4 linked regions of the Homo sapiens genome follow. The protein of the gene in region 1 purifies or fractionates together with the protein of each later gene. This does not show direct contact. Each region holds a gene or a part of one and is shown on either strand. Other genes may lie near its edges. The genes, in order: POLL, SYN2, LTF and RIOX2.

Region 1 (6,894 bases):
CAAACCAAGCTCTGCTTCCAGTCCTCTGCCAGCCCAGCCTGCTCCTGACTCCCAGCACACAGTGTCCTCTCTAAAGCTGTTCCTTAATTGTCCCCAAACAGAGCCTGCTGACTCCTCTCAGAGGCAATTTCCCTGCCAGTCTGCCTCTCTCCTCCTCCGGGAAGCCTTCCCTGGCCGCCCATCCCTGTGTACACGGTCACCATTTAGTTGTTCCTAATGGTTTCCTGAGTCTTGTCACTTTTGCTCATGTCCCCTGATAGCCTGGTCTAAGGTAGGGCCTGCAGAAGATGCTGATGACTAGATAGGAGCTCTGGGTGCCTGGCTCCAACATTCTCCCTGGTCACAGCCACTGCTGTCCTTGCTGTGAGTTTAGGAGCTGACTCAGGCCAGTCCTGTCTGGAGGGCAGTTAACACAGCCTTTCTGGGCTCCTCTTTTCAGTTCCCATCTCTGTCGTCCCTGCCTGGGTGGAACAAGGTAGCCAGAGGCTGCAGCAGCTCAGACACCAGGCAGGTTCAATGTCAAATGCACTTTACTGGGCCCCTGGGCCTCCCAACACTGTCCTCACCAAGGCTGGGGCACCCCATTCCCAGCACCACCAGCTGCCCAGGAAGCAGGACGGATAGAGGGAACACATGTGGAATGGCTGTTCTCCTACCCCAGAGGGTGCCGGATGATGTTGACAGCACGGCTGCTTCCCTCTCCCCTGCAGCTTCTGTCCCCACCCAGCAGCTTGGCCTTTCCCATAGCAGGGAAGGGGGATACCTGGGGCTTCAAACCAGCCACCTGCTCCTGCTTAAAATGGGGCAAGGGGCCATTTGCAAAATTCTTCGAGGGGCAGTGGTGAGGTAGAAGGGGTGGCAGCCTGCTCCTGTCTGGGAGAGGGCTGGGCAGACACTGGGAGCCGGGCAGACACTGGGAGCCGGGCTGGCTCTTGCTTCAGGCCCAGAGCCCTGGGCCCTGCTCGCTGAGGAAGCTGGTGGTTGGAGCGGCGAGGTTCAGCCAGCTGAGGCTGGAGGGAGTACTGGGTGGCCAGGAGGGGTAGCCAGTCCAACTCGGCTCTCCTCAGCACCCCCAGCCATGGGTCACCAGTCCCGCTCAGCAGGTTCTCGGTAGGGGAGGCCTAAGAGCCTGAAGACATCCTTCTCAGTGGGAGTGGGCAGCACTCGGCCAGGCCCCACCTTGCAGCCATGGGTGTTCCGGACCACAGCAGTGCTGAGGGCATGTTCTGACAGACTCATGCCCTTGGTTTTGGCCAGGGCTCGCATGGAGCGGTTGAAGTGTGCAGAGCCGGTGAAGTAGAGCAGGGCACAGGCAAACTCGCTATAGGGCACCACGATGATGTCCAGGCGCCGGTGCCGCCGCCCTGGCCCTGGGAGCCGGCACACCCCCAAGTACTTCTGTTGCTGACCATTCTCCTCTTGGCTCACCAAGTCATCTGTGAGGAACCCTGGCCCAACAGAGGGGACTGCTGGGAGGGCAGGGAACCAGGCCTGGGCTGTCCCATCCTCCCAGGTCTCTCCTGATGTCTAAGCTGGGGCTTGCCCAGGTATTAGCTGGGTGACACTACCCTCTCTGGGCCCTTCTCCTTTTCTGTAAAACATGGATAGTAATTCCCATCTCCCCCATAGTGTCACAGAAAGATCAGATGAGATACTTGGCCTGCAGGGTTCACTGAGCACCTCCACATAGGTGTGGCGGGGCTGTTCCATCTCTCCCTGGAGAGGATTCCGGCCCCGATAGAGAGATGGGATGCTGGCAAAGCACTGTTCCCCTGCTTCCTGCCTCAGGACTGGAACTTCTGAGGTTCTCCCTCTGAGGGGGCCCCCAGACCTGTGCTGCCCTCTGTCAACCTGCTCACCCAGAGATGGAGCTTATACCTTCCTGCCGAAGACTGTCAAGGAGGCGGCTGAAGATACCCCGGTGGGACCGGCCATCTGGGTGAGTGATGAGCACGTCGACATCACCACAGGTCGCCTTTCCCCGTCGGTATGAACCACATGCCACACACAGCAGCCCAGAGTTAAAGGCCTGGGCTGCTTTCTGGACCTGGGAAAGAGAGCGGTGACAGGTGAGGGGCTGTGCGTGGGGAGCTCCTCTCCCACAGCAGTACAAGGGCCTTCCCAGACTCGGGCCCACACCCTCAGCTTATGCCCATTCCAGATGCCTGCTGCAAGCCCAGGGGAATCCACCCTGAGGAGCTGCTGTTCTTTCCCTTCGCTAGGACAGGAGAGAAGAAAAAGCTCACTGTGCAGGAGGCAAGCCTGAGGAGAGACGGGAGAAGGTGCCGGCTCTGCTTCTGAGAGTGGGCACTGAGCTTGCCCTGTGGAGCTCTTTAAGAGTAGGGAGACACAGACTCTCTCTGCCCCTGCCCCAGCCCACGTGCCCAGGTCTGTGAAACTCCACTTAGGACAAGGGGCCAGGTGCTGAAAGCCCTCAGCCAGGTCTAGGCAGCCCCAGATATCTACTGATTTGGAGCTAAAGGTTTGGAATATGTGAGCTGGGGTTTGAGGACTGAGCAGGTGGCTGGCAGCATGCGCCAGGCCCAGGCCCAGGAGAAAGTGGAGCACAGAAATACAGCTGCACCTGTGGGAAAGGAGAGGAAAGAAAGCAAAGAGGGGGCAGTTCTGAGCCAACACCCACATCCTTTCTTGGTGGGGAGGGAGCTGAGACAGCAACTGCCAGCTGAAGGATTGTCCCTCTGAGGAAAAATAAACCCATTAGCCTCCACCCCTGAGACACTGAGGTTCTTTCATATGCAGATGGCCTCCTGCCTCCACCCCAGGACACTGAAAATTCTGGGGCCCCGGACACCTCAAGTATCCTGACAGGAGGGCTCCGCTAATCCCCTTACTCCCTTCTTGAGCCTCCCAAGAGAATGGAAGGAGGAGGTCCACGTGAGTAATCCCATCAAAACTCCTATGGCTGGAGCCCTTAAATGGGGGCACAGGAGGCCAGGTGGGAAGCCTCTTTTGTTCCAATGGGCTGGGTACTGACTGAGGCATTCTCCATGCCCGGACACCATGGCTGAGTGACGGTGTCATCACTAGCACCAAGGCCTGGTGATGGGCAGACAAAGAGGCCTGTCCATCCATCTCATACCGGCCTCATAGCCTTGTGGCCTGGAATGGAGCTGGGGGCTGATTTCAATCAAACTAGGCCAGTCTCCATGGGATCCCACTCTATCAGAATCCCTGACCAAAGTGAGCAAAACTTGCCTATTACAAGCAGCTCCTAATCCTAATGCCCATTGAACAAATGATACATCTAGCCCTAAATGCAGTCCAGTGTCTCTCTAATCTAGCTTTTACATGAACCTAATCGCTAACCCAACTCTAAACCAAACCCAAATCTTATTTCTTGGACAACTACAAATCTTAACTTAAAAGCAACCAACATTAAGAAAATCCTACGCCTAATTAAAGCCTAACTTTAACTCAATCTTTTTTTTTTTTTCAGACAGAGTCTTGCTCTGTTGCCCAGGCTAGAGTGCAGTGGCACAATCTTGGCTCGCTGCAACCTCCGCCTCCCAGGTTCAAGCAAATCTCCCACCTCAGCCTCCCAAGAAACTGGGATTATAGGCATGAGCCACGGCACCCGCCTAACTTTTTTGTATTTTTAGTAGAGACGGGGTTTCGCCATGTTTGCCAGGCTGGAAATTTTTGTATGTTTTATAGAGACAGGGTTTCACCACGTTGGCCAGGCTGGTCTCGAGCTCCTGAGCTCAGATGATCTGTCCACCCTGTTCTCCCAATGTGCTGGGATTAAAGGCATAAGCCACTGTGCCTGGTCTTAACTCCATCTTGATGGAGCTTTCTTCCAGCCCCAAACCAAATCCTACTGACACTGTGCTTTTACACCAACTCTACCCCAAATCCTGAGCCAGCCTTGCGTGGGCTTTAGAAGGTCCATACATCTGGAAAAAGACATAAACCTTTGCACATTTGTGCATTTTGGGGAGAAAACAGTCCACAGTTTTCATCAGGTTCTCAAAGAAGTTGGTGAAATAAAAAAAAAAGATAAAATAAAATATTAAAACCCTCTGCCCTGACCCACCCTAACCTCAGTACAGATATAATTCACCTGTAATCTAACCCTAACATTAACCCAATCCTAACACCAATCAGTCTAGAATTGAATCCAATCCTAATAGGCCTGACTACTGAGAACCAGAATCTAGAGGGCTGGTGTTACAGCTCTTTCCTCCCAAAGCTCCCCACCCCCACCTCTGGGCCTGGAGCTTCAGTCTTAACTTGCTCTGTGCTCAACCTCTGGTGATCCACAGTTTCCTCTGCCTGCTGTCCTCCCCAGCTGAGGAGTTGGGGGTTCTTGGCTTTGACCCAAGACCTTACAGCAGGACCTGGCTGTCCTCACTGCTCTGGGACACCTGCTTACTGTCTGCTCAATCTCTGTAGCCTCCTCCCTGGGCATACGTTCCAGGAAGTCACTGTAATGCTTCAGGCCGATGGCCTGCTGGGTTGTCAGGGAGGCCTGGCTGCGGATGTCTTCCAGACTTCGGAAGCCCTGGAAAAAAGCAGCCAGATGGGAAGCTGTAAGGATCCAGGACCAATGAAGAGGCATGAGTGAGCACACACACAAGGCTTCCATCGCCCCAGACTCTAGGGAAGGCTAGAGGCAGGACCAACCTAGGGGCAGTTGGGTCTGTACTCAGCAGGACTTGGGAAAGGCAGGGAGCATGGGAAACATGCCATCATCCAGCCCTGCCACTATCCTAAGATGCTCGTTCATGATTCCATCAGTCTGAGGATGGACCTTGTCATCTTCATCCTTACCAAGCTGCCCTGGTGATTGTGGGCAGAGCCAGGATTGGGAACCACTGCTCTAGACACGCAGTGTCAAGGCCTGGCCTCCTCAGGAAGGCCCTTGCTGGTCTGGGGAGACTGAGAAACATACTTCTTGTCCCTGTCTACTCCTTCTTAAGGATACCAAGCAACAAGGCTGTTCTGGGAGCTGAGGGGTCTATATGAGTCCTGGTCCGCTTGAAAAATGGTCTCCCTATACTGTGGGTGCATTCCCATCAGAGCACAGCATAGGGATCTGGGGCAGAGCACAGCACACATCTGGGGCAGGAACTCTGAGACACAGCAAAACTGAAGTAGGGGCTGAGCCAGGGTGTGACCTGTTGGTACCACATCTGGGCAGTCTTGGTCCCAGCTCCCCAGATGTTGGAGAAGAGCTCCAAGACAGGCACGCTCTCACTGATATGGTCCAGCTTCCGCAAATGCCCGCTCTCCAGGATCTCTATGATTTTCTCAGCCATCCGCTTCCCAATCCCAGGGATACTGCAGGCCTCCTAGAGGAGGAGGAGGCAGAGGCAAGAAAGAAGAGTGAGGAGATGGAAGAGGTAGAGCCAGTGGAAAGGAAGCTGACTCCTCTAGCAGATGCTGACATAAAAGCCAGCCTGGCTGCTTGGCAACTGTGTGGCTGTGTAAAGCTTGGGTGTAGTTGAAGATGAGAATTTTGGATAGAATGAGGGCTGGGTAATTTGTCTTTTGGTTCCCAGAAGGATGGAGACCAGCAGTAAGAAGTAGAAAATAATGATGATATTAGTCACCACCACCACCACCACCATCATCATCATTCCAACAGCAAGAGCTAACATTTACTGAGGGCTTACTCTATGTCAGGTCCTGTGCTACAGGGACCATTTCATTTAATAGTAGCCCCTTTTTACTAATGAGAAAACTGATGCTTTGAGAGTTTAAGTAACTTGTCTGGAGTCACACAGTTAGTGAATGACAGGAACCAGAGTTCAAACCCTGGTCTGTTAGGCTTCAGAGTCCAAACTTCTTTTAAACAACTTTTTAGGCGGGACACAAGGGCTCATGGCTGTAATCCCAGCACTTTGCAGGGCTGAGCCGAGGGTAGATTGCTTGAGCCCAGGAGTTCAAGACCAGCCTGGGTAACACGGCAAAACACCATCTCTGCTAAATAAATGAATAAATAAATAAATAAACAAAATTAAAAATAAAAAACTTTTAATTATGTTAAAAAATTCAAAAGTAGAGAGATCCATATAACCCCCAAGTATCGTACATCTCCCAGCTTCAACAACTATCAAGATTTTGCCAATCTGCTTTCATCAATTTTCCTTTTTTTTCTTTTGTGCAAGTCCTAGACCCCATAAAATCTTCACCACTGTACCTGAACCCCACTGGGGTTACTAACCACTGGCCAGTAAAGACCCCTCCTCCCACTCTAGCCCCTGGGTACCTGGTACGAGGTGACAGGCTTATGGAAGCTCTTGAGGGCATTGATGGCCTTGGCATAGCCCAGGGCCCTCCACTTGTCTCCCTGAACACTGTAGGCTTTGGCCAGAACTTCCAGCTTCTCTGTGATATGGAGGTTGTGATTGGTCGCCTTCTGGCTTGAGGGCTGTGCACAGACCCACTTATCCAGGACAGCAGGGGCTGGGCTAGGCTCACAATCTCCCTCAAGGGAGGTGGGGTAGTGGCCACTGATGAGGGCTTCCAGATCAGCTGCACTAACCTGGGTTTCTTCCCCATCACTGGCTTCATCATCAGAGATGGGCTTGGGATAGAGAAGAAAAGAAAACAATAAATTCTTGTTCTCCAAGAGAAGGGATCCTTAAAGGTGGGGGTCATCTTCTTTGTGCGGGGGGAGGGTCTTCTAGTCAGACCTAAGAATGAGGCGGGGCCTTCTGCATCAGACTTGGATCTCCTTGGGTGTGAGGCCACGTTCCCTTTGGCTCCACGCAGTGCCTAGCCCTAGGATCCCCAGTGGTATGTGTTAGATATGGCCTAGATAAATGCAGCAGTGATGAGTGTTGGGAAGAGCTAAATGGCTTCACAATAGAGCCCTCCTCTCTCAGGGGCCTGGGACTTTCTGAACAGCCACCAGGCCCACCCCATTTC
Region 2 (7,632 bases), on another chromosome or scaffold:
TTAGAAGAGCAATTCTGGGAACTGCTATTAAGCACAGAAACACAGGAGCAAAAAACTGTTGTCAAGAACTAGACTTGAACTGGGCTTATGAGTTTTAATAAATCAATGTTATTACTTCAGAGAAAATAGGAAAACAGTTGGGAGTCAGCCCACGGGAAAGTGGCTTCTATGACTTCCATCAGAGGCTTCTAGTCTCCAGGGCAAGGCAAATTCTCTAGTTTATGCCAAATAGGCTTCCTAGAGAATACTATCCAAAGAGAGTTTCAAATCTTAAGCTACAGAAGCATTTATAACTAAACAGAAATCTGCAGCAGCTTCATCATACCCATACAAATAAGTATCAGTACCTATCTATAGATACCTAACTGGCAATAAGACTCAAAACAAGTGCATTTAATAGGATAAGAAATCAGGACAAGGTACAGAAGGGTCAAATTCCTGCACAGAAAAATAAAGCACGAATGTCATTCTCATTTCTCCTCTTCCTTTTCTTGGCCTTTCTTCAAGATTCATCTTTTGTGAAGCTTTCTCCAATAACTCTGGCTCTCACTAACCACTCCATTTGTTGACTGCCTGAAACACTAGTCTCAACCAATAATTCTAGATTTCTTTTTAACTGTTTCATGTATCCACTTTGTGTCCCAATTTGAGTGAGTTCTCTTAAAAGGCCCCCACACTGCCTAGAGGGAGCTTGTTATTAATATTGCTAATAATAATAGTGAGGCAATATAACACAGTGGAATGAAAGCAGTGGAGTCAAACAGGCCTAAGTTCAAATCCTGCTTCTACCACTTGCTGGCTACATGATTGTAAACATATTACTTACCTTTCCTAAGCCTCAGTTTTGTGAAGAAAATGCAATGAGATATCATGCTGAGAGTACAGCATTTGGCATATAATGGATGCTCTGACTGAGCACCTTTACTAGCTTGGTTACCTTCCCTTCCTCCGTAATAAGCACTTGTTGATATGAACTGAGTCAGAGTAATTCTAAGGAGGGCTGCCAGTGGCACTATCATATGCATTACACTTTCCCCATTACCCTCTTCCATGTGCCTTTGTCATTTCCTGGCAAAAGTCCTTTCGGATTTTCTACTCTACTCTCTTGAAAAGGCCAACCACATAAGTCACCCAAAGGACTATTCAGAATGGTGACATTAGCAGCCAGCAGGAGGGCATCTCCACATCTGCATCTCATTTCCACCACACCCACACGCCAGCACTCCCTCCCTCTGGGTCTCCCAAAGAGAGAATGCTAGAGAGAGAAAGCAGTGAAGCAGCCAAAAGAGGAAATGGAGAGAAATAGCTCTGTGGTCTCTCTGTGCACCCCTCCTGGGAAGAACACTCAGGTCCAGTCTCCAACCTCAACCCCTATGAGAAAAAAAAAAAAACAAAACCCTTGCTCACATTCCTGGAGAAAAGGCACCCCCAGATTCTCGGCCTCTTCATTTCTCCAAGCCCTTCACCTATCAATTTCACCATCCCACCATTCCCTAGGTTAACTATAAAATAGAGCCGCTTTTAACTAATTTGTCTTCAGTGGACCTCATTCGTACTTTTACCAAGCAGCAGCCTTCACCATTCTAAGTTGGAAACATGCTACCTATCTCTTTAGAAGAAAAAAAAAATTATTGAAGTTTCCCATCTACTACATTAAGGCAGGTCTCCTTTTATTTGTACCCCTTTAATGATCCAGTATATTTTACCAAGGTCTTCATCTTTCAGCTAGAAAAAGCTACCATTCACTTCCACGCCCCGCCCCCCACCACGCACATTTCAGAAAAACAAGCAATCAAAAAAAAAAAAAAAAAATTCCACACGTCCCCTCCCTGCTGCACAAAATACAACAATTTTATTATTCATAAAGAGACTTCAGCCATGCTCCGGGGAACAAGCCCGTGTACACCTGGGCCACTACATGTGTGATTTCATCAACCTGATGTCAATACTTGATATCAGCCTTCATGGGTCCTGGTTAAAAAAAACCCACCACCACCTTCTCCCTCCAAAATACCAATTTCCATTCCAAATTCACTCCGTGCTTCATGAAGTTAAACCTTTTTTACTGGCCCTAAATGTTCCTTCGGCCTCCTGGGACTATTTCACTTCAGATTTTATGTGTCTAAGCTAACAAGTGTGTCCCCTCCTCTACCCCCAAAAAAACTATTTCCTAAGGGCCTTTCCTGTTGCATAAAGTAGCTCCTTCTTGTATGGGACCTGGGGGACCTGGGGCAATTGAGGGGTATTTTAGCTTTGGGTTCGCCTTTCCGGGCTGATGGATGCCCTCCCTCACCCCGCAAACGCGCGCGCGCTCAGCCCGCACCTCCTCCCAGCGGGACCTCGGGGACCCTCCTTTTTATTGGTCTGAAACGTTTCCTCGGCGACCTGGGACCGTCCTCTCCTGGCCTGCGGCTGCCGGCGGACCCCGACCCCCGAGGGCGGCGGCGCCCGGCACCTACCAGTCGGCGTGCGGCTCGTCGACCACCAGCAGCACCTTGGCCTTCCTGGCGGCTGCGGGCGCGGGAGCGGGCGCGTCCACCAGGCCAGCCGAGGCGGCCGTCTGCTTCACGGCTTGGGACAGCGAGCTGAAGAAGCTGCTGCCCACCGACGGCGTCGGCGCGGGCTGCGGCGCGGGCGCCGAGGCGGGCGGCGGCCTCCGCTCCGGGCCCGGCGAGGCGGTCGGGGGCGCCGCCGAGGCCGAGGCGGCGCCCGGACCGGGGGGCGGCGGCGGCGGCGGCTGCTGGGGCTCGGGCCGCTGCAGGTCGGTCATGTAGCCGTTGGGCAGGTTGGCGATGAAGCTGCTGTCCGACAGCCGGCGCCGCAGGAAGTTCATCATCTGGCTTAAAGGGCTGGGGGCGCGCGGGGCTACGGGGTCTGGTGGCGCGGAGGGAGAGCGAGGGCGGAAGGCGAGATTGAGGCGACTGAGGCGGCTGAGGCGGCGGCTTAGCCAGCAGAGACTCAGGCCCCGGCACCAGACCCCGCAGACAGCAGCGGCGGTCTGGGCCAGGCAACCCGCGCGGCGCGAGGCTCGCGGAGAGGGAGCGGGCGGGGCAGGGGCGGGGCCAGAGATAGCCCCCGCCCCGCGCCGCAGAGGCGGCCCCGCCCCGCTCACGGAGGGCACCTAGCCGCGCGTCTGGCGACTCTCGGGGCTTGCAGGAGGGGGCGACCCAGGCCTCCAGCAACCTGAGCGTGACTATGCGGGGAGGGCGTGGGAGCCAGGCCTTCTCCCCAGGGGAAGGAAAAGGAACCAGAGGCCCCACCATCTTTTTGGTTGGAGAGAAAAAGAGCCGTGTCCCAGCTGAAATGGAGGCGAAGGAAACCGACCCCACTCCTTTTGGAAGGATAAGAGGTGTCAGCCTCCCTATGCGGAGGTGAGAACGAAAGGAGTCATCCCAATCACGCGCGCACACACGCACACAAGCACGAACACCCTGTAGTGAGGAGGAAAAGAACCACCTCCTTTCCCAACGCTGGGGAGAAAGATGTCATCTCCCCAGCCCCCAGAAGAGGGGGAAGGGAATAATCCGCTGTTACTAACACACACACACACACACGCGCGCGCGCGCGCGCACACACACACACACACACACACACACACACACACACACCCTATGGTGAGACAAAAAAGAAATACCTCTTCTAGGGAGGAAGGCAGCCTCCTTACTCCAAGGCGAGGGAGAGGAAAGGGGAGAAACAGATCCTCTCTACTCTGTCATGGAAGGAGGGGTGGGGTGTGTTTTCACTCCTGCACTTCTAGGGACAACAACAGTATGTACTTCTCTCCCCCTCCTCACTGACCAGTGAGAGAAAACCAAGAGAAGACTGGAGACATGGTCTCCACCCCAAGAGGGATATCTAAGGATCCCCCAACCCCACCGTGTTTCTTTCCTAGCATGCATTGATGCATCCAGTGCTATACCAAGAAGGACATCTCTTCAAGATCTTTCTACTTGTTTTTTCCATTTTATTCGTTGCCTTGACCTCTGTGAAGACATTTCTGATGGCCACCTTCCCATGTGCACTCTCTAAATCTTGCGTGACTCTTGGACCTTTAGTTTTCATCTCTCATTAGATATACTTTCCCTTGTGTTGTAATGGAGCAGGACACAGCAGATAGGCTTTACAGCAGACTACCCCGGGTGATATGTGACCCTGGATCAATAACCCCTGTGAGCCTCTCTCCTTAGCTGATAAAAAGGAATAAGTAACCCTTTCCAGAGTTGTTACATGGAGTAAATGAGATCATGTATGTAAAGCATCTGGTACACAGCAGTAGGTATTCCAGTAGTGATGCCTGAATTCTTTTTTCAATTGGTTCTCAGTAAGTATGTACTGGGCTGAATGGAGTCAGGGAGTGGCTTGTCACTAATGTTGGTGGGCAGTTCTTGCTTCCTGTATCCCAGCTGGCACTCAACTCAGGGCCTAGAGATACACAATCCAGCTCTGAGCCGGTGCTATCAGAGAAGTCTCCAGTCAACTATAATAACACAGTGGTCTTCCTATCTACTACATGCTTGGCACAGTGGTAAGAGCTGGAAAGGCTGAAATGAATGGGAAGTGGCTCTTGTCTATTGCAAGTTCATGATCTATGTGGGCTGGGGGATGGAGGGAGGATAGACACAGGAACCACATAAGATGTGAGAAATGCTATCATACAGTTGGGCAAAGAGGGTTAGGAGGCCTAAGGAGGGAGGGACTCATTCTGCCTCTGAGACTTAGGAAGGCCTCTCAGAGGAGGTGACATTTGAGGTGGATCTTGAGGCAGCTATGTTTACCAGTAGAAAAGTGAAGAAGGCAGGCAGGCAGGCAGCCAGAGAAGGCATGGAGAAGGTATGTAAGTTGATGGTTCCTCCAGGAAGCCTTTCGTCAATCCTCCAGGGCGGGCTAAGTGTTCCATATCCTGTGCTTGGCTTTGTCATAGACCCCAAAGAAACTATCATACAATATTCTGGTGACTAGAATGTAAGCTTTTCTAGGACAGGATTATGTCTTAGTTATCTTTGGGCTTCACACCAAACACAGGACCTGGCATGTAATAAGGACTCAGTTGTTTGAGAATTGAACTGTAATCTTACCCAACTCGGTTTTTGTGTTTATTGGAGAATAAAACTGATAAGTCACTAATAACATAATTAAATAAACTTAATTATTGCCCTTCTTAAAAAAAAATTTTTTTTTTGAGATGGAGTTTCGCTCTTATTGCCCAGGCTGGAGTGCAATGGCACGATCTCAGCTCACCACAGCCTCCGCCTCCCGGGTTCAAGCATTTCTCCTGCCTCAGCCTCCTGAGTAGCTGGGATTACATGCATGCACCACCATGCCCAGCTAATTTTGTATTTTTAGTAGAGATGGGGTTTCTCCATGTTGGTCAGGCTGGTCTCAAACTCCCGACCTCAGGTGATCTGCCCGCCTCAGCCTCCCGAAGTGCTGGGATTACAGGCATGAGCCACCACGTCCGGCCATCAAAGGCATGTATCTCTAATGAAGGGATTTCAGACACTGTGTCACTTCAATTTTGGGGGTGATAGGTTTTTTAAAATAATATTTCAGTAAGTAATTTCCCCAACCGTTAAGCTTATAGTATATGCATATATTTTTAAAATCAACCAATTAACAGACGTGTTTTCATGCCTAATACATGCAAGCCATTATGCTAGGGACAGGAGGGTAAAGGAGATTCAGGGATGAATGAAACCCAAGTTCTTAAGAAGACAGCTCATAAACATGTGAACACATAACTAGCAATAGCAGAGCAGCCTGTGAGTGACCTGAAAGTAGAGCAGGCAGTGAGTGTTAAAGGAGCCAGAGGAAGAAGAGATCTCAGGGACAGGAATTTTCACAGAGAAAGAAAGGCTCAGGCCTTATAAAATGGGCGGAATTCTGACAGGCAGGAAAGAGTGGATGGAGAAGGCAGCCAAGGTAAAAAGGATAGCCAGAGCAAAGGCTATCCCTTTGAACTTCTTGAATCTCCTCCTTGAAGGCAAAAACCTTGTCTGTGTTGTTTCTCACTGTCTTTCTTGAGCTTTTCATGGCACTGGCATATGCATTCTAGTGTTTGTAGGGGTGGCTCTGAGAGGCTGTACTTATGCATATGTTTATGTTGCTAGTGTCTGTCCAGCTTCTCTTTTTAGATTGCAAGCCCCTCAAGGTGAGGGATTCTGTCTTCTGATTTTCTCAGAATGATCTACAAAGCCTCTAACACATAGTAAGTGACCCAGTTGTGGGAGCTAGATCAGAATGTTCTCTAAAATGTTATTTTAGAGCCCTTCATAGAAACCATGGAGGCCTACAAGATCATTTAAAAATGTTTATCAAATATTCCATTAATTTATTACATTGTTTTCTGGTAGGTTTTAATAAGAATATTATTCTTGTGGAGGAACAGACTGTTTTCATATAATTGGGCATAAGTGGTCATTGATCAGTTGTGTATGATCAGAAGTTTTCATTAGTTAGTACAACTGTAAATCACATCTGCTTAAATCAGTATCTTCCGGCTTGCAGTGAGTCCTTGCCAAGAAGTGTTTTTGCATGCTGCAGAAACATGCAGTGCATCGTGTCTTATTATAAATGGGCTGTAATGACAATATTTCCCTTATCCTTACCTGTGGATCTGGGTTCCCGATACAGGTAGAACATAGCACTATTACTCTGTCGCCTACCTTTTACCTGGAATATGAAAGGATAACTGGATTTGGACTCAGGAATGTCTATAAAATATGAAATTTTCTACCTATCTCCCTCTTAAGACCAACCAGCATTTTCCCGTCATCTCCAGGTAGAAGGCATTTCTCCCACAGCAATCGGTGTAGGGGGTCTCTCCCACCTTTCTTCATCCCTCAGTGTCTGACTTAGCCACTGAGATTCTCACTGTGAGAATCTCAGAGGTCTCTTCCAGTTCTAGAAGCCCAGGACTCTTTGAGATCCTTCCTTTGTAATCTTTATCTTCCCACTGAATTTTGAACACAATTAAGCATCTGGCAACTGCAGATGAAAGAATCCTGCTAAAATCAAGCACCAATTTAAATGCTTTATCGCCTGATTTCTCTCTTCCCTTGAGCAACAGTGCAGCTGAGATAGCTCACAGAGAGAGAGGCTGGGTACATGACTGAGGAGCAATTTTGTCTCTGTAGGGCAGAGCTCAGAAACCTAGCTTAAAGGAAAGCCTGGTGCATGGAGCCACTTGGCAAAATGCTTGTTGTCTGGGTTTCCTCCCAAATAAGAAAGGAAACCATGACATCCTTGGCTCCTGCTCACTACCCAGGGTCAGGGACCCCATTTAGACTCGCCTGCTGTAGAGGAAAGTAGAAAGAATCTGGAACTCAGAAATTGTACATCCTAGTCCTGCTCCATCACTAGTTGGCATTGCAATTTTACACAAGTTGCTCTGGTCTCTGGGCCTCATATGCAAATGGAGAATGAAAGTGTCTGCCTGACTTGGGCCTCTCATAAAATAATCTGGAAAGCACTTTGAAAGGGACAAAGCTGTACCAGAAGAGGCATCATTATTGCCTTCTACACCATCTTGTTACCTGTCATTTTGGAGACCCCAATGATGAGAGTTTGTCATCTCCATTTAGATGGTCCTTCTTGACAATGCTGCTAGCAGCCTGTGGATACCTTCTTCTACCT
Region 3 (7,741 bases), on another chromosome or scaffold:
TGTTCAGCCTCTGCTGTCTCCTGTTTCTGAGCCATCCCCTTATGGCGAGAGCCACCCATGGCCCTTGGGTGGGCAAGAGGCCTGTAGCTCCCTGGCTGAGTCTGCAGAGGTTTGGGGACACCTAGCTGCCATACTCCCCCTTCATCCACCCTCATCCCGGGGAAATCCCAGGGAATATAATCTTGCCTTGGAAGCCTTTATAGAACTATCCCACACTGAGAATTAACCCAATCAGATGCAGCCATTTGTGACCCAGTGAGCATTAACTGGATGCCTGCTGTACAAACAGCACTGTGTGTCACGCAAGGAATGTGTAAGCGGACAGGACCAGATTTCACTTCTCACTGGAGAGGCAAAAATCCAAAAAGAGGAAGCTAAGAATGGTGGATGTGTTAAAAGAGAACAAATACCAAACAAATACCAGCTAATGGAGACATACGTGTCTCCATTAGTTGCCACAGCTCCTCTGTATTGTGAATTCTGCCAACCTCTCCATTCTCCAGGGGAGGGAGCTATGGCTTTAACTAGTTATGTGGCTTGTGGAAGTTCCCATAGCTAATAAGTAAGTGTTGGATCTAGGACTCCAACCTAAGCAGTCAGGCACTAAACTCCCCTACTCTTACCACTGGGCTAGCCTGCCTATTTAGGTTGGCAAAGTTAGAGACAGGTTGGAGATGGGGCTAGAAAAGGGTCTGGGTCAGATCCTGGAAAGTCTCCAATGCTGATCCAGGGAGGTCTTATTCAGGATGCAGTGAAGCTGTGACTCACGGGAGACTCTCCCTAGGGCAGGGGCAGAGTGAACTGAGACCTGGGAACAGGCAGAGAAGCTGTGGCCAACGAAGGCACCAGGGAAGGGCTAGTCTGAGTGGAGAGAGGGGACAGCACTGAGAACAGAGAAGGGGGCAGGGAGCTGGTATCAGAAATCAGCTTGGTAATGGGTGGGTTCTGGGGGTGAAGGGAGAGAGTAAAATGGAAGACCATGCCTCAAGCCGGAGGTGGGGGCTGAGCAATGACGGGAACCTGTGGGCAGAGTTCATTTCTTCCCCTAAGAGGAGCTGAACCAGAGTGACTAAAGGACCGCTGAGCTCCCTTCCAGGATTCCCAGTCCCCAGCCCCCCAAACACCAGGTGAAGTCTCCACGCTCTTACCTCCCAGCTCTGGAGCTGTGTGACCCACAAGCTCTTACCTCCCAGCTCTGGAGCTATGTGACCCCCTGAAGCAGGTCTAGGTCTGGCCCCTCCAAAATCTTCAACCCCACACTTGTATTCAGTGTCAGGCACTCAGATGCTGCCCACTGGACCTGGCTGGACACTGGCCAAAACACACATTCTGGGCAGACATGCAGTGCGCTGGCCTCCAAGGCAGGGGCCAGGACAGGAGTTACTCTCCCCACCTACCCACACAGCTCATGATAGGGCCCAAGCAGACTGCTCAGACTGATGGGAAACCTCATGAGTGCCTCCCAGCCCATGGCTCCAGGGCTAAGCAGACAGACTCCTCCACCCAATGCTCACACGGCTTAGATCCAGCTGGCCCCACTCACCCAACTTCTGTCAGCCTGGACACCCACGGGGAGCAGGGCAGGAATTCCACAGGGCAACTGCCACCCTTTCCTCAGGAAGGACAAGGGTTGCAATGGCACTTTGGGGTACAAGCCACCATCCCAATTGACTGCAGGATTCAAACTTCAGACCTCAGTAGGCGCCAAAACAACTAAAGATCCAAGTGAATATAAAACCCAGTGGTGCAACTCTGAGCCAGAATCCTGGACCACAGCCCATGACCACTTCCAGGAAGGCAAGGCTTCCTTCCTCTCCTGCCCCTCCCAGGTGGCCCTAACCCTGTGCAACAGGCCACTCGCCAGGGAGCTTGAGGGGAAGAGAACAGTCGGGTCCTGGCCAGTCCCAATCTGTCTTAGAGAAGAGAAGGATGACCAACACCCATGGGAAGGAATTTGGAGCAGGAGACCAGAAGGGCAGGGACAAGGATGGGTTTGGGCTCCCACTGCTGCTCTCTATCCACCGCCACCTCTTCCATCCAGGAAGCTCCCAGCCTTAGGTAGATGCCGTAAGACAAGTGGAGGCTGCACTGGGCTGGGGAGGTGTGACACCTGGGCTTTCACTGTGCCCCTCCCACTGCCTAGGTCCTGATGCCCATCACAGCCCTTTCTGCTGCGGCCTGGGACCTTCCCCTCCCGGTGCTGCAGGGAGCTCCGCACTCACGCATTTAGGTCACTAATGTGCAGCGCTGGGGAGTGCCCTCTGAGCACCCGAGAAATTACTTTGGTTATGGAACTGACAATTGTTTCCTTCCTTCTACTCCTTCCTTCTGTTTGGCTGACATTTCCCTCTCAAACCCTCTGACACAGGGTTCCATCAGGAGCACCGCACCCCTCCACAACCCTCTGCCACGGAAGGTGTGCGAATGCCCCATCTCCTCCTCACAACCCTGTGGACCCATGGTTAGGCCGTTTCTTTAAGTGAAGAAACTAAGTCTCATAAAGGCTCGGTCTTGCTGGGGTCTCACAGTCCTCGCAGGAGCTAGGATCTGGACTAGGGTCCTTGAGCTAGTCGCTCACCCTCTCTGAGCCTCACTTTCCTCCCAGGTAAAACGCATGTCACAATACAATGGGGACCAAATCCTTAGGCGGGACACAAAGGGACAGGGGCCTGGGAGGCCTTTTGAGAAGCTCTGAGCAGAGCTAGGCGTGCCCCGATCCGGCTTGAGGAGCCCAGCTCCTGTTCCTCCCCATGTGGGAAAGAGACTGGCCCCGCGTCCGGGCCGCCTCCCGGCTGTAGGCGCTGGGACCGCGGGGCGCAGAGACCCCGCGCCCAGCCAACCGGACACAGGGACCAAAGCGCCTAGCAGACAGGGCGCAGGAGACGCCCATCAGGCGGCTCGCGCCCCCAGGCACCTGCACTCACCGAGGGCCCCGAGGAACAGCAGGACGAGGAAGACAAGTTTCATGTCTGCGGTCTGGAGGCGACTTGGCAAACGAAGGCTCTGCCACTTGCGCCTGCCCTGCGCCCCTTTATTCAGGGCTTTGCCCCGCCCTGTTGCCCAATAGACACCCCTTCCCTCCCCACTCCCCGCGGCCAGGTCTACTTGTTCCTTGAGGATCCAGGCTCCGAAAAGCCCTGAGGCAGGACAGGACTCCACACCGCGCTGCGAGAGGAAAGCCAGCCTGCACCTCACCTGTCCTGGTTCTGCCTGGCTGCTGCGATGTTCTTTCTCTCCCACTAGTCTGCAAGCCCCTAGGAGTCGCAGCCCCCTGAGCCCTGTCCCAGCTCTGGTCTCAGTGCCTTCTAGAGGGCAGGACACAGAGCAGAGGGTCTTTACTTGAAGATCGCCTTGACCTGTGAGACTGCTATCTTCTTCAGCAGATGACCTTGAAGGTGCCTAGGAGCCAGTTAGGGCAGGTGGATTTGCTTTCACCTTGGCTCAGCAGTGAGCTGAGAGTTGAAAAGATGACCCGACCACCCCCAGCAGCAGCCTAGGGACAGCTGACAGAGAAAAGAGAGGCTGCCCAGAGTCTCAGGCAAGCTGCCCATGGGGTATCTCCCTGCCCTGCTGAGACCCACAATACAGCTCCCAGAAAACAGACAGGGACCTCAGAGGGGAATGGCCACCACCCAAGGCTGGTTCCATGTTCTTATTTGCCAATGAGAAAGATGCCCTATGGCTAAGATGCCCTACCACTTTTTTTTTTTTTTGTCTTTTTTTTCTCCATCTCCTCCTTCTTCTTTTTTGGTGTTGATAGTATTCAGTAGGAAATGGTAACCTCATTTTAACAATCGCCATAAATGTCAGATTTTAAAATTCAAAAGCTAGAATACTGCTTCTAAGAATACATCTCGTAAATACATTCCCATGACACACAGCACCCCAGGTACAAATGTTTCCAGGCACCACTGCATGCCATTAATCAGTTGGAAGCAAACTAAACATCCATCTCTAGGGGAGTGTCACATACAGCATGGTGCCTGTGGGACACATTGGGGGCCTCAGAAAGAATATCCTGTGTGTATGGATGTGAACTTAGCCCAAGAGTAACTAGGCAGGGCACAGTGGCTCATGCCTGTAATCCCAGCACTTTGGGAGGCCAAGATGGGAGGATCGCTTGAGCCCAGGAGTTCAAGACTAGCCTGGGCAACATAGGGAAACCCCCATCTCTACAAAAAATACAAAAATTAGCCCAGCATGGTGGTGTATGCCTATGGTCCCAGCTACTTGGGAGGCTAAAGTGGGAGGACCATTTGAGCCTGGGAGATGAAGGTGGCAGTGAGCCATGATCATGTCACTGCACTGCAGCCTGGGCAATAGAGTAAGACTCTGTAACCCCCACCAAAAAAAAAAAGGGTAACTAAGTGAAGAAAAAAGGTACTAACAGTGAGGGAAATAATAGGTCACCTGAACACCTTTCTTGGCAGGTGAGTCTGACCAATATGTGACTCTGAAATCTGCTTATTCTGAAAAGCTGGTCTTGACTCTGCTTAGACTACTTGGTACTAAAAAGCATTTCCTGGAGCAGATAGGCAATGCCCCAGGGAGCCAGCTCTGCCAAGAGTGAGCATGCAGTGGGCACCTAGCCATGGAGAAGCAGGCTCAGCCCAAGGTGGAGAGGCCATTAAGGAGGCTGGGGAGCCCCTCCATTTCTGGGCATGATCCTGCCAAGGCACAGGGTGGAGGCTAATCAGGGATCATGCTTGCCTGCCATGAGACTGGGGTCTGAGATTTGGTGCTAGAATCACCAGCTGGGTTTTGGGGTGACAGATCCAAGGTCTCTCATTGTTTGGAAACATGATATTGCACCATTTAAAGTTGCCATCATCAATAATTGCAATAAGTTCTTTCAAAAATACTGAAGAAATACAAAATTGACTAATTCCCAGGAGTGCTGAAGCATCTTTGTACCTAAATTGGCAACAAGACTTTGCCTTTTCATCATTATAAAAGAATTAAGAAACATCATAACCCGTGTCTCTTTTTCTGAGTCCAAATTTTAAAAAAGGATGACTGGGAGGTCAGAGGGCCCTGGGCCCTCTTAAGTATGTTACAGTGTTGGCAAGAACACAGAGAACCTGGGGCCACTACCAAGAGGCTCAGCTTAAGGAGTGCCCTGAAGGCAGCATGGGTAGGCAACAGGGCAGACTGTTTTCCTGCTGTGCCTGTTGGAACAGCCCAGCCCCAGGGCAGGGATGTGAGCATCTGGACACAGGCAGAGCAGCCCCTCAAGGCCATTTGCAGAGGAGGCTGATGTAGGGGATGAGTCTGCCCCAAAAAACAATGAAGTTTCACTGATCTATTAACAGCATTCATTCATTCATTCATTCATTCATTCATGCCAGAACTGGTAGATGCCATGAGAGACAGAGAAGAGGGGTCTGTCCTTGCCCTCAGGAGCTCACAGCACTATGGGGGAGGGACAGTCACAGGAATGCACTTCTATCACAGAGGCTCCCTAAGAAGAGGCCAAGCAGCATAAAGCAAGTGAGTGTGAGGGCCCAGAGGAGGAATGACCAGCACCCATCATGAGGGCTCCAGAAGAACTCCAGGAAGATTTAGCCTGGGTACCTGAAGGAAGGGTGGGATTTCTACAGGTAGAGCATTCTGTAAAGTAAACAACCAAACAAGTAAAGGCTTGGGAGCATGAACCCAGTGACCAATTACCTGAGCACTAGGGACAACAAAAGTTCCCTCTGGCTTTCTGGCCAGGAATTCTTTTTTTCTTTTCTTTTCTTTTCTTTTTTTTTTTTTTTTTTTTACCGACAGGGTCTCCCTCTGTCACCTAGGCTGGTATGCAGTGGTGGTGCAATCACAGCTCACTGCAGCCTTGACCTCCTGGGCCCAAGCGATCCTCCCACCTTGGCCTCCCAAAGTGCTGGAATTACAGGCATAAACCATTGCACCCAGCCATGGCTTGGAACTCTTGTTGGAAGAAGGATTAACAAAATCCTCCTCCTCTATCCTGAGCTCCACATCATGTGTTCATCTGCCTCTGGAAAGGTACTCTTGCAGGTCCTGAAGGCGCCTAAATTTAATGCATCGAAAATGCAACTCACCCAGTCCCTCCAACCCTGAACCTTTTCTCATATTTCCTACCGCTTTCCACCAAACCCACCAAAGAGCCGCAGAGGCACCCTCAAATCCTTTGGCCAGTTAGCTCTGTGCATGTTATAGGCACTTGATGATCAATATCGGTTGAAGGAATGAATAAATGAGGAAGAGGAACAGGCTAAGAAAGGGACAAAGGATCCTGTTTGTAATGTGTTGGGTCTGAAGGATAGTGAGGGTCAGGGCTGCCTAAGCCAGGCCATGCCAAAGCCTGTGTACATGGACTCATTAACTTACCCATTCATTCAACACTGGTCTATGGGACATCTCCAACGTGCCAGGAGTTGGGTCAGATCTCAAAGAGCCTGCAGGGAAGCAGAATGCAGGTTTCCAAATGCTGAGACAGTAACATGAGTTTAAGGAGCACAAAGAAGGTAGCTGCTGTGGAAACTGCCATGCAGTGGCAAGAGCTAGTGTTCAACAGGCAGATGTGTGAGGCTGACTCCCTTCCCCCTAACCCTGCTCTGCCCCCACCCTCAAAACTCCTCCAGGGAGCCTTTACAGAATTGCAGGCCCAAGCCCCATTAGCAGGCAACAGTCTCTGGCCAACCTAAGTCCTCCCTGCAAGCCAGTAAACCTCACACCCTGCCCTCTATGAGCCTCTAGCTTCAAACCCCAAGAAGAGTGTTGGGAAGGAAGTGTGAGATCTGAGTAGAACTGGCTTCAGGTGGGATAAGGCAGAAAAGGCCTTCCTGAGACATCAACTCACGCTTGGACAATAGCTTGGCAGATGGGAGACCTTGGGCCCTGTATCTTTTCCCTGCCAGTGGTGAGAGATTGCTGACTTGAGAACCACTTGTTAAACATTTAGGGATTTGGGGTGGGTTAACTGATGGCAGCTTGATATCAGGCATAGTCGATGTATTTATGCCATGGAATTAGCAAATGCTCTAAATCAGGGCTTCCTCCTTCCACACCCCCAGAGGGCCAGTTGACCAGCACACAGCTGCCTACGTTCATCATTGGTGGCATGCAGTGTCCACATTAGTGTGGGTGTGTTTGTGTATGGGTGGCTGTGCCATCCCTAGCAGAGAAATAGGATAATAATCTTTAATATTTGGATGACATTTTAAAATCCAAATAGTGCTGTCAGTGACTTTGTTTCACATGGCTTTAACAACGACTCTGTGAGTTAAGACAGTCACTCTTTCCATTCTAAAAACAGGTACTCTGAGTGTCGCCTGAGGTCACACAGTGAGTGAGATACAACTGCTATCCCTGAGTCTCCCATTAGGCCCACAGCCAGGGGCTTTCTCCTCCATGAGCCAAGAACCCTCTGAGAGCTCAGGGTGCAGGGACTGAGGCCCAGGGATCTCAGCACAAAGGGAACCTGGCAAGAATTGAACCTTCCGTGAAGCAGGCCCTGCCTGGCCCCTTCCACACATCAGCTGGCTTCTGATGCTCTGGAAATACCAAAAGGTGCTTGTTATACCTGTTTCCAGCTGAGTGGACTTGGGCAATGCACCCTGTTCATGGTCTCACAGCCAGTGGACAGTAGAGCTAGAAATCCACCCGGGACCCCATCCAGTGACTTCTTAGGGCCTTGGTGTCTTAGTATTGATCATTTATTTGCTGATCACCCTGAAGAGAGGGGCAGAGAATGGGGGAGAAGGAGAAAGAGATGGAT
Region 4 (7,852 bases), on another chromosome or scaffold:
TTTCAGTTATTTTCCTTTTCTATATTCAGAACCAGTTTATATGAGGTATATTTTTCTCTTCTTTGAAAGTTTTAAAAAACTTCATTAACAGACCCATCAGTACCTGACTAGTACCACCTTAGTTGGTCATTTTTAGGTCATTATGATATTTTAAAGGAAAATAAGTAAACTAATGTTGCATCATAATATTGGGGCTTCCTGACCCATATATACATTCTGTTAGTCTTGTAGGAAACATTTTCAATAGGAGCTTGTGTACCTTTTAACAAAGCAACCCAAAGAGTATGAGCAGAAAGCACCTCTGCAGGAGTACATATTTTTATAAGAATTGGGCAAGTCAATTTCAAGATTTATGATAACATGTTAAGTAAGAAAACATCTCTGTAAGGGAAAGTCATTGGAAAATCCTGAGGCATATTTTCACCTGCAAGTGCTGGGTTGCTGGAGAAAGGAGGTCTGCAGAATCATTTAAGAAAAGTCATGCAGCCTAACACCAACTTTCCTATAGGCACAGGCTGTAAAAGAAATTGGACTCTAAGCAAGAAAAGAAAATAGGAATGCTTACCCAATTCAATTTTGTAAACAGAGTAACTACTCTGTGAAGAACTCTGTTGCAGTTCTCAGAATTAAAGAAGCACATTTCTTGCTCCCAAGGAGTTTAAATCATAGTTTTATAAATATGCAAAATATAATTCCAAACGGTGATGGTATGCTTGTTATCAAGTTAAGTACGTTGAGTTCTATGAGCTGTATCGTAACTACTATAGTCTTGAAAGACCTCGGCCTGGGTCATTGTTAAACAAATTTGACTTTTCTGAAGGTACTAAGACACCAAGATTATCCCATGGTGATATGACATCAATTTGAAGGTACTCTGCTTGATGAATTGTGTAAATTAAGTGAAGTATGCATGTATAAAAGGCCCAACTGCATTTAATTCATTCCATGGAATCATGTTCAAGATGTCATATGGGATTTAACAGTAATGCCTCTCACACTCAATAGCATTTTACAGTTTTAAAACTCTTTTGCTTACTCCACCTCACCTGAAACTCACAGCATCTTTCCGAGTTAGGTGAAATTAACCACTTTTGGAGAAACATAAACAGAGGTCCAAAGAATATTACTTGATAGGCAGTATGGGTGCTATGGTCTGAATGTTTGTCCCCACCCTGGATTCATATACTGAAACAGAATCACCAATGTGATTGGAAGGTGGGGCCTTTGGGAGTAGATTATGTCACGCGGGTAAAGCCTTATAAATGGGATTATAAAGAGGACCCACAGAATTGCCTTCCCACTTCTACCACGTGAGGATGCAGCTAGAAGGTGTCCTCTGTGAACCAGAGAACAAGCCTCCAAAACTGTGAGAAGTCCATTTTTGTTGCTTATAAGCCACCCAGTCTTAGATATTTTCTTATAGCAGCCCAAATGAAAAAAATGGACTATCAAATGATGTATTTTTGAGCAAGTTCCTTAACCTTGATGTGTCTGTTTCCTTATATTAAAAAGTTAGCCCAATATAGTGGTATAAATATTAAAGTCATATACTAGAAAGACATGGTTTAGATATTTTCTGGACCAAAGTGAATACAAACACATAGGGGGCAGTACTCACATAGTTTAAAGCAATGTGTGTTTCCTGGAATCGTATGACACAGTAGCATTATAAAATAAAGCTTTACAACAAAAATACAAATATTAATCATTTTATAAGTTCTTCAATGTTTATAGACTGAAAGGTAATTCCAATCAGACTGATTCTTCTTCTAATGCCCTTTGAAAATTGGAGCACAGACCCTTAAGCCTATGGAATTTGAGTGCCAATAGGGATATCACAGTACATCTGGTGCAATCTTACTTTATAAATGAGGAAAGTGAATGTTAGCAAAGAGAGTTTTCCAAATTCATATACCTGGCCCCTCCAGAGTTAGATCTAATAACCATAAAAAGTACATTTACACACCACCATTTTTAGATTTTTTTGCACCCAGCATCATTGTGACTGGAGGTAGGAGTAGGACAGGGTTGCACTTTTGCAGCCTGATGCCCAGGCTGGACAGGTGCACAGCCACAATGAGGTGGCTAAAAACCAAAAGCTCTACAGGAAGAAGAGCCTAGGAGACCACAGAAGAGGAAGACAAACTTGGCTCTAAAAAGAGTCTTTTAATAAAGCAATCCAAACGGTGTGAACGTCAAGCACCTCTGCAGAAATGTAACTTATTTTACAAGGCTCATGGACAAGTCTGTTTCAGGGTTTATGGCCGAGACATGAAGGGAATTCTCTTCTTTCTCCTGTCTCCTTGGCATCTTGTTCCTCAGTTACAGAGGAGGAGCGCTAGTCTGTTGATTAGAAATCTGGAGGCTTCTAGACTTTTCCGGACAGATCTTGAGAGCTGCCATCTACAACATTGTTTTCATGAGAAAATTAATTACAGAAACAAAATAACTGACTTTTAAATGAACCTATGGTGGGGACTGGATAGCAGTCTGCATCTTGTCCTCTGGAAGAACTTTTCCAAAAAAAAAAAAAATACCAGAAACAATACATGTAGGAAGGCCATATATTCTAGAAGCCTCCCAGGCAAGGTTGCAGACCATTCTCCACTCCCATCCCATGCCACCCTTACTTCCTCACCTCCTCTTCCTCCTCTCAGGCAAGGTTGCAAGCCATTCTCCACTCCCATACCATCCCACCACACCCTTACTTCCTCCCCTACCTCCTTCCCTCCCTCCCCCTTCCTCCCTCCCTCCCCGCCCCTTCCTTCTTTCCTTCCTTTAGACGGAATTTCGCTCTTGTCACCCAAGCACAAACTAACTTTCCTTCTCTTTTTCTTTTTCTTTTCCGAAACAGAGTTTTGCTCTTGTTGCCCAAGCTGGAGTGCAGTGGTGCAATCTCAGCTCACTGCAACCCCGCCTCCCTGGTTCAACCAATTCTCCTGCCTCAGCCTCCTGAGTAGCTGGGATTACAGGCAGGCACCACCATGCTTGAGTAATTTTTTTGTATTTTTGTTAGAGACGGGGGTTTCACCATGTTGGCCAGGGTGGTCTTGAACTCCTGACCTCGGGTGATCCACCGGCGTCAGCCTCCCAAAGTCCTGGGATTATAGGCGTGAGCTACCGCACCTGGCCCCTTCTCCTTTTCTTCACAGGAATGATGGGCACTGTTTAGGTCTGAAAATGGAACTATCATGACTTTTTTGCTTGCTATGCTAAGAAATCGGAATTATAATGAAAAAAATCAGAGAGAACATACTGATATACTAATTTTGCATTAGAGGAACTCCTACACAAGATGTATGATTTCCCCCTGCAAAGCTGACTTCCATATGTACTTTTGTTCTGTTAGACATCCTGCGGCCATTTTATATGCTGAGAAAATGGTATTTTGTGTTGACATTATAACTTTTTTCTACAACCGTACTGCTTTTCCAAGTGGTGGACGTGTGAGAATTTACCTTTATCTGAATCCCGGGAACAGCAATATTATTCTATATTATCTTGAGTAGATGTCTTGCAGTCAAAATAAAGAGCGAAGTACATTACCAATATCATATCAACTAGAGATTTTTGCTGTTGACTATTCTTTTTTACCCTGTAAGGGCTAAATTTGATGTTACCCTCGAGTTTTTCCAACTGGAACCTGCCAGGAAACTTACTAGTTATACGAGTATTAGTAAAACGTGAAAAAGACCAACAGTTGACTGACTGGTTTGGCTCTAATCTTGTTTCTGCATCTTCCTAGCTGTGTGATCTTGTGCAAGTTAGTTAACCTCTCCTGACTCAGTTTCCTCAACTGTAAAATGGAGGTAATTGCAAGGTTGTAGTGAGGATGAAGTGAGGAGTATTTGAAACACCTAGCGTGGTGCCTTATAGCCAGGAAGAACTCAATTCAAGACTTGCTATTATTGTTAGTTTTAGACAAATACTAGACAAGGGTGTACTTTGTTCCCATTTGTTCATGTGCCACTTGATCCTTAGAAGCAGCCACTGGTCTCAGTCACCTTGACGGAACGAAATGTCGACTTCCTCTGGGTCCTCTGGCTGTCTACAGAGCAAAGAAAGGCACAGGCCCGCCACTGATTTCCCTGCTCCCTCATTTGTGCCTCCTGACTGGAACCAAATGTTCCAAAGCAGGGAGTGTTAGGCTGAAAGGACTCAGATAACTGCATTTCTTCTGTTTCTATAGCCATAGTCGCAACGAATTTCCAGTATCTTTTAAAACTAGGATTGACTCTCTCTCCCGGAGCGAGATGATATAAATGACACTCGGCTTGTACAAATCAGCATTGTGTAGCCACACAGCCCATAAGAAAGCCATGGGAGAACCCGGACCACCAACTCCCTAAACTTGCACCGCTGGTATTCCTCTTCAGGCCTGCTTCTCTATTCATAAAAGGAACGGAGTTGCACCAAAACGCTCTCTCAAATCCTCTCCTGCCGCCCCAAGTTAAAAGAAAAAAAAGGAGAGCCGGGTGGGTGGCTCACACCTATAATCCAGCACTTTGGGAGGCCGAGGCAGGAGGATCGCTTGAGCCCGGGAGGTAAAGGTTGCAGTGAGCCAAGATCGCTACCACTGCACTCCAGCCTGGGCGAGAGTGAGACCTTGTCTCACATACCATAAAAAAAAAAAAAAAAAAAAAAAAAAAAAAAAAAAGAGGAAAAAAAAGGCCATTTATTTCCTTCCATATGGACTAAAGAAACGCCCGGGCGTGAACGCGGAACACCGCCGGGTAGCCAGGCCTCCGGGCTGCCACCACTTGCGGGCCGGCGTGGCGGGGCGGGGCGGGGGCTGGAGCACGGCCCGGAGCGTGCCCACGCTGCCCCGCCTCCAGCCGCTGCGCCGCAACGCAGTGGGCTCGCGGCCGCGAGCAACAGGCCGTGCCGGGTGAGTGGGGCGCTCTCGTGGGCATCCCAGCGCCGGGGCAGGCCGGGTAGTGCCCGATCCCGCGGGGCGCGCGCTGCTGCTTTAGGCACCCGGGCTCGGGTGCGGGTCTGGGAGACCTGTCGGTCGGCGAGAAGCCTCGGTGGCCGGCGCTGTGGTTGCGGGACCTGGGACGCGCTCCCAGGCGTCCCACCTCCCCGGAGACTGGGGCAGGGTGGGTGGGGCCCGGATCTAGGGGTAGGGTCGCGGAAGCCTTGGTTACAGAGAGTCGCACACGTGGCCTGCTAATGGTCGCGACACCGGTGACGAGCGCACGGAAAGTTTGGAGGCTTAGCAAGGAGGGTGGTGCCGGCCTCCGCCCGGTGGTGGCAGAACTGCCTGTGCGAGCACGGCTTCCACGTGGGCTGCGCCGCCGGGCGTCATGTCGGGCCTAAGAGACACGCTCTACAGCTGTGAAATCTGAAGTTCAGGTGTGTGGGGAGAAGGGCAGCTGCATTACATCATATGCTTCCAATTCATTTACCAGCAAATAATTCCGCAACGATTGGCCGACAGCTGGGTTGTCCAACAGGTTACTGAGACCAGGTTATTCACTGTTTTCAGGAAGGATAGACTGGGAGGAAGAGGATCTGATTTCGCCACTCATTAGCTGTAAATCTGGTGCCTCGGGTTTCATGTCACTGGGCTCATCTTTGAGCAGAGGAACCTGATTTACTCAGCTTCTTCTGCTGGTACTGGTTTTTGCCTCCTGGACATCAAGCTTTGTAACCTCATGGTCACGAAAATACATTGAGGTATAGTCCGTTTCCTCTCTAAAATCAGACTAAAAAGATAACTGCTGATCACTCCTTTAGGTCAATAGGAGAACCAGTTTTCCCTCTGGATTGATTAACATATCTCTGAGCCAAAAAGAAATGTTTTAGATCAGTCTGGGCAACCTTGTTACAAGCAATATATAATTTCTGACAGCCGTGTGTTTAACTGAGCTGCGTTTGACTGTTGTCCTCCATTAGTGGACCTAAAATTCATCTAGAGAGCGTATTACGTTAATGCAGATTATGGGCCTCAGCCATCAGAAGTGGCAATCCAGTGGGCTTGATGAGGGCCCAGAAATTTGCATGCTAACAACCTTGCTGGTAACTCTGAACTACATTCTGTAAAACTGCCCAGGGGATGTAGAAATTCATACTTCCCTCCCCGATTTAGTAATAACTACTGATGTCTAAAGTGCCTTTTAGCTTTTACGATACTCTTGAATCCTGAAGTGACAGCTGCAATCAGAAAAATAATCCCCTCTGCACAGGCCATCTGTTTTTTCCGTAACTGTTTTGTGTAAGGCCTTTGTGGTTTGTCTCCAAAATTGTATACAGACAAAAGATGAAAATGTGAAAAATTCAGCAGACATTTCTTGAGGACCTCCTATGTACCACACCGTGCTTGTTTCCGGGGATATACAAATCCTTTCCTTCAAGAGCTTCCTCACGTCTTCATGTCCTCAAATATTATAGAAAAGGAGGTTAGGGTACCTTTAAAATATAGTGACTGTCTGTCTGTTGCCTATAGTATGGTTGTCAACATTGATTTTCTTATAGGGTTTATCTGTGGGGTAGTCACCAAAGTATGAACTGTAAATCTTTTAGTCTTTTTACATTTAATGCTTATAGTCAACTCAAATGGAAAACAATTGCTCTTCAAAAACTTTTCTGTGATTTTACAGAAATATTTACTCCTATTGGGGTGGTCTCTAAGGCTTATGGGCAAGGTTGTGTTGGCTGTACTATTCTAGACAAAGCATTGTCTTCTTTAATTACTATAGTATTGGATTCTAAGATATGTGTTTTACTTCTTGCTGTTTCCGAAATTATGATATGTACCTTAAGACTTTTGTATGTTTAATGTGGTAGGATGCTTCATCTATTCTCCCCTCTGCTCTAGAAAGCTGTTAAGAGGAATGGTTGTCTTACAGTATGAGTAGTGTGAGAATCAGAGAAATAATGTATTTGCCCAGAAACCTCTAAGCTTAGGCTCCAATTAACTGAGCCTCAAATCATTTCAACATGAACACAGAGAAACAAATGATGTAACTTTTGGCAGTATGGGTAGTGAAATTTATATTCTAAGGAAAGCATTTGTTATACAGTATTGGGGTTTGTTAGTGATTGTAGATGGGAAAGATTCTTTTAAGTGATTTTATTTTGGCTTAAGTGTTTTGCATTCTTTGATTAGCCACACTTTCTGGTGAATGTGCTTATACTGTATTCATATATTATGCTTAAAGAAAAGCTTTTCGTTTGCATCTTCCTCCTGCTCTCTCCCCTTAAATGAATTTTAAACTGACCAATTGTGAGAGATAAGAGATGTGTGGCTGAATATAAAATGACTCTATAGGGTGCCTTTAGTAATACAAACCTAATAAACCAATCTAAGTTTTTAAAAATTAAACGTGAGCAATGTGCTGTGGTCCCCAAGGCCATCTTTAGTTCAGCAATTTGCTAGGAGGACTCGGCTGATTTATTACAGGGAAAAGATATCAAGCACAGTCAGCAAAGGGAAGAGGCACATGGGTGAAGTTCTGGGGATACCAAGTGCAAGGCTCCAAGGGTCTTCGAGCGGTCACACTGGCTGTGCTCAGTTGCTCCAGCAACTAGTTGTGTCAACACTTGTGAAATGTTGCCAACCTGCGAAGCTTGTTAGAGACTCAGTGCCCAGGGCTTTTACTGGGGGCTTTTCACTTAGGCCACCCCTGCCTGGCACATACCAACGTTTCCAGACTCCCAGAGGAAAGCAGGTGTTGGTATAAACTGTAATGATTGTACATTTTAGGCATGGTGAGCCACTCCTATCAGTTAATGGTGGTGGAAACTCTCCCAAAATCTTAAGTTCTCAGACATCGGCCACAAGCTGCACTTTCAAAGGATAGCAGTCAGGCCTGCTATGGAACGTCTTCTGCATAAGCAGTACCCCTTC

Evidence for each region.
Region 2: the proteins of POLL (region 1) and SYN2 purify together in Homo sapiens (affinity purification with mass spectrometry; 3 studies listed by BioGRID and IntAct, with this or other methods). This does not show direct contact.
Region 3: the proteins of POLL (region 1) and LTF purify together in Homo sapiens (affinity purification with mass spectrometry; 3 studies listed by BioGRID and IntAct, with this or other methods). This does not show direct contact.
Region 4: the proteins of POLL (region 1) and RIOX2 purify together in Homo sapiens (affinity purification with mass spectrometry; 3 studies listed by BioGRID and IntAct, with this or other methods). This does not show direct contact.

Annotation. Positions count from the first base shown.
Region 1 is NC_000010.11:101,578,370-101,585,263, forward strand, and holds the end of POLL (DNA polymerase lambda), read right to left. Parts: intron 6,551-6,894; coding exon 6,233-6,550; coding exon of another isoform or gene 6,067-6,232; exon of another isoform or gene 5,981-6,066; intron 5,313-5,980; coding exon 5,139-5,312; intron 4,523-5,138; coding exon 4,394-4,522; intron 2,048-4,393; coding exon 1,879-2,047; intron 1,470-1,878; coding exon of another isoform or gene 1,449-1,469; coding exon 1,084-1,448; 3' UTR 513-1,083; downstream 1-512.
Region 2 is NC_000003.12:11,999,756-12,007,387, reverse strand, and holds the start of SYN2 (synapsin-2), read right to left. Parts: upstream 3,001-7,632; 5' UTR 2,837-3,000; coding exon 2,460-2,836; intron 1-2,459. UniProt on the Homo sapiens protein: Neuronal phosphoprotein that coats synaptic vesicles, binds to the cytoskeleton, and is believed to function in the regulation of neurotransmitter release. May play a role in noradrenaline secretion by sympathetic neurons.
Region 3 is NC_000003.12:46,461,901-46,469,641, forward strand, and holds the start of LTF (lactotransferrin isoform 1 preproprotein), read right to left. Parts: upstream 3,006-7,741; 5' UTR 2,968-3,005; coding exon 2,925-2,967; intron 1,755-2,924; exon of another isoform or gene 1,544-1,754; intron 1-1,543. UniProt on the Homo sapiens protein: Transferrins are iron binding transport proteins which can bind two Fe(3+) ions in association with the binding of an anion, usually bicarbonate. Lactoferricin binds to the bacterial surface and is crucial for the bactericidal functions.
Region 4 is NC_000003.12:97,969,417-97,977,268, reverse strand, and holds the start of RIOX2 (ribosomal oxygenase 2), read left to right. Parts: upstream 1-4,837; 5' UTR 4,838-4,888; exon of another isoform or gene 4,889-5,679; intron 5,680-7,852. UniProt on the Homo sapiens protein: Oxygenase that can act as both a histone lysine demethylase and a ribosomal histidine hydroxylase. Is involved in the demethylation of trimethylated 'Lys-9' on histone H3 (H3K9me3), leading to an increase in ribosomal RNA expression.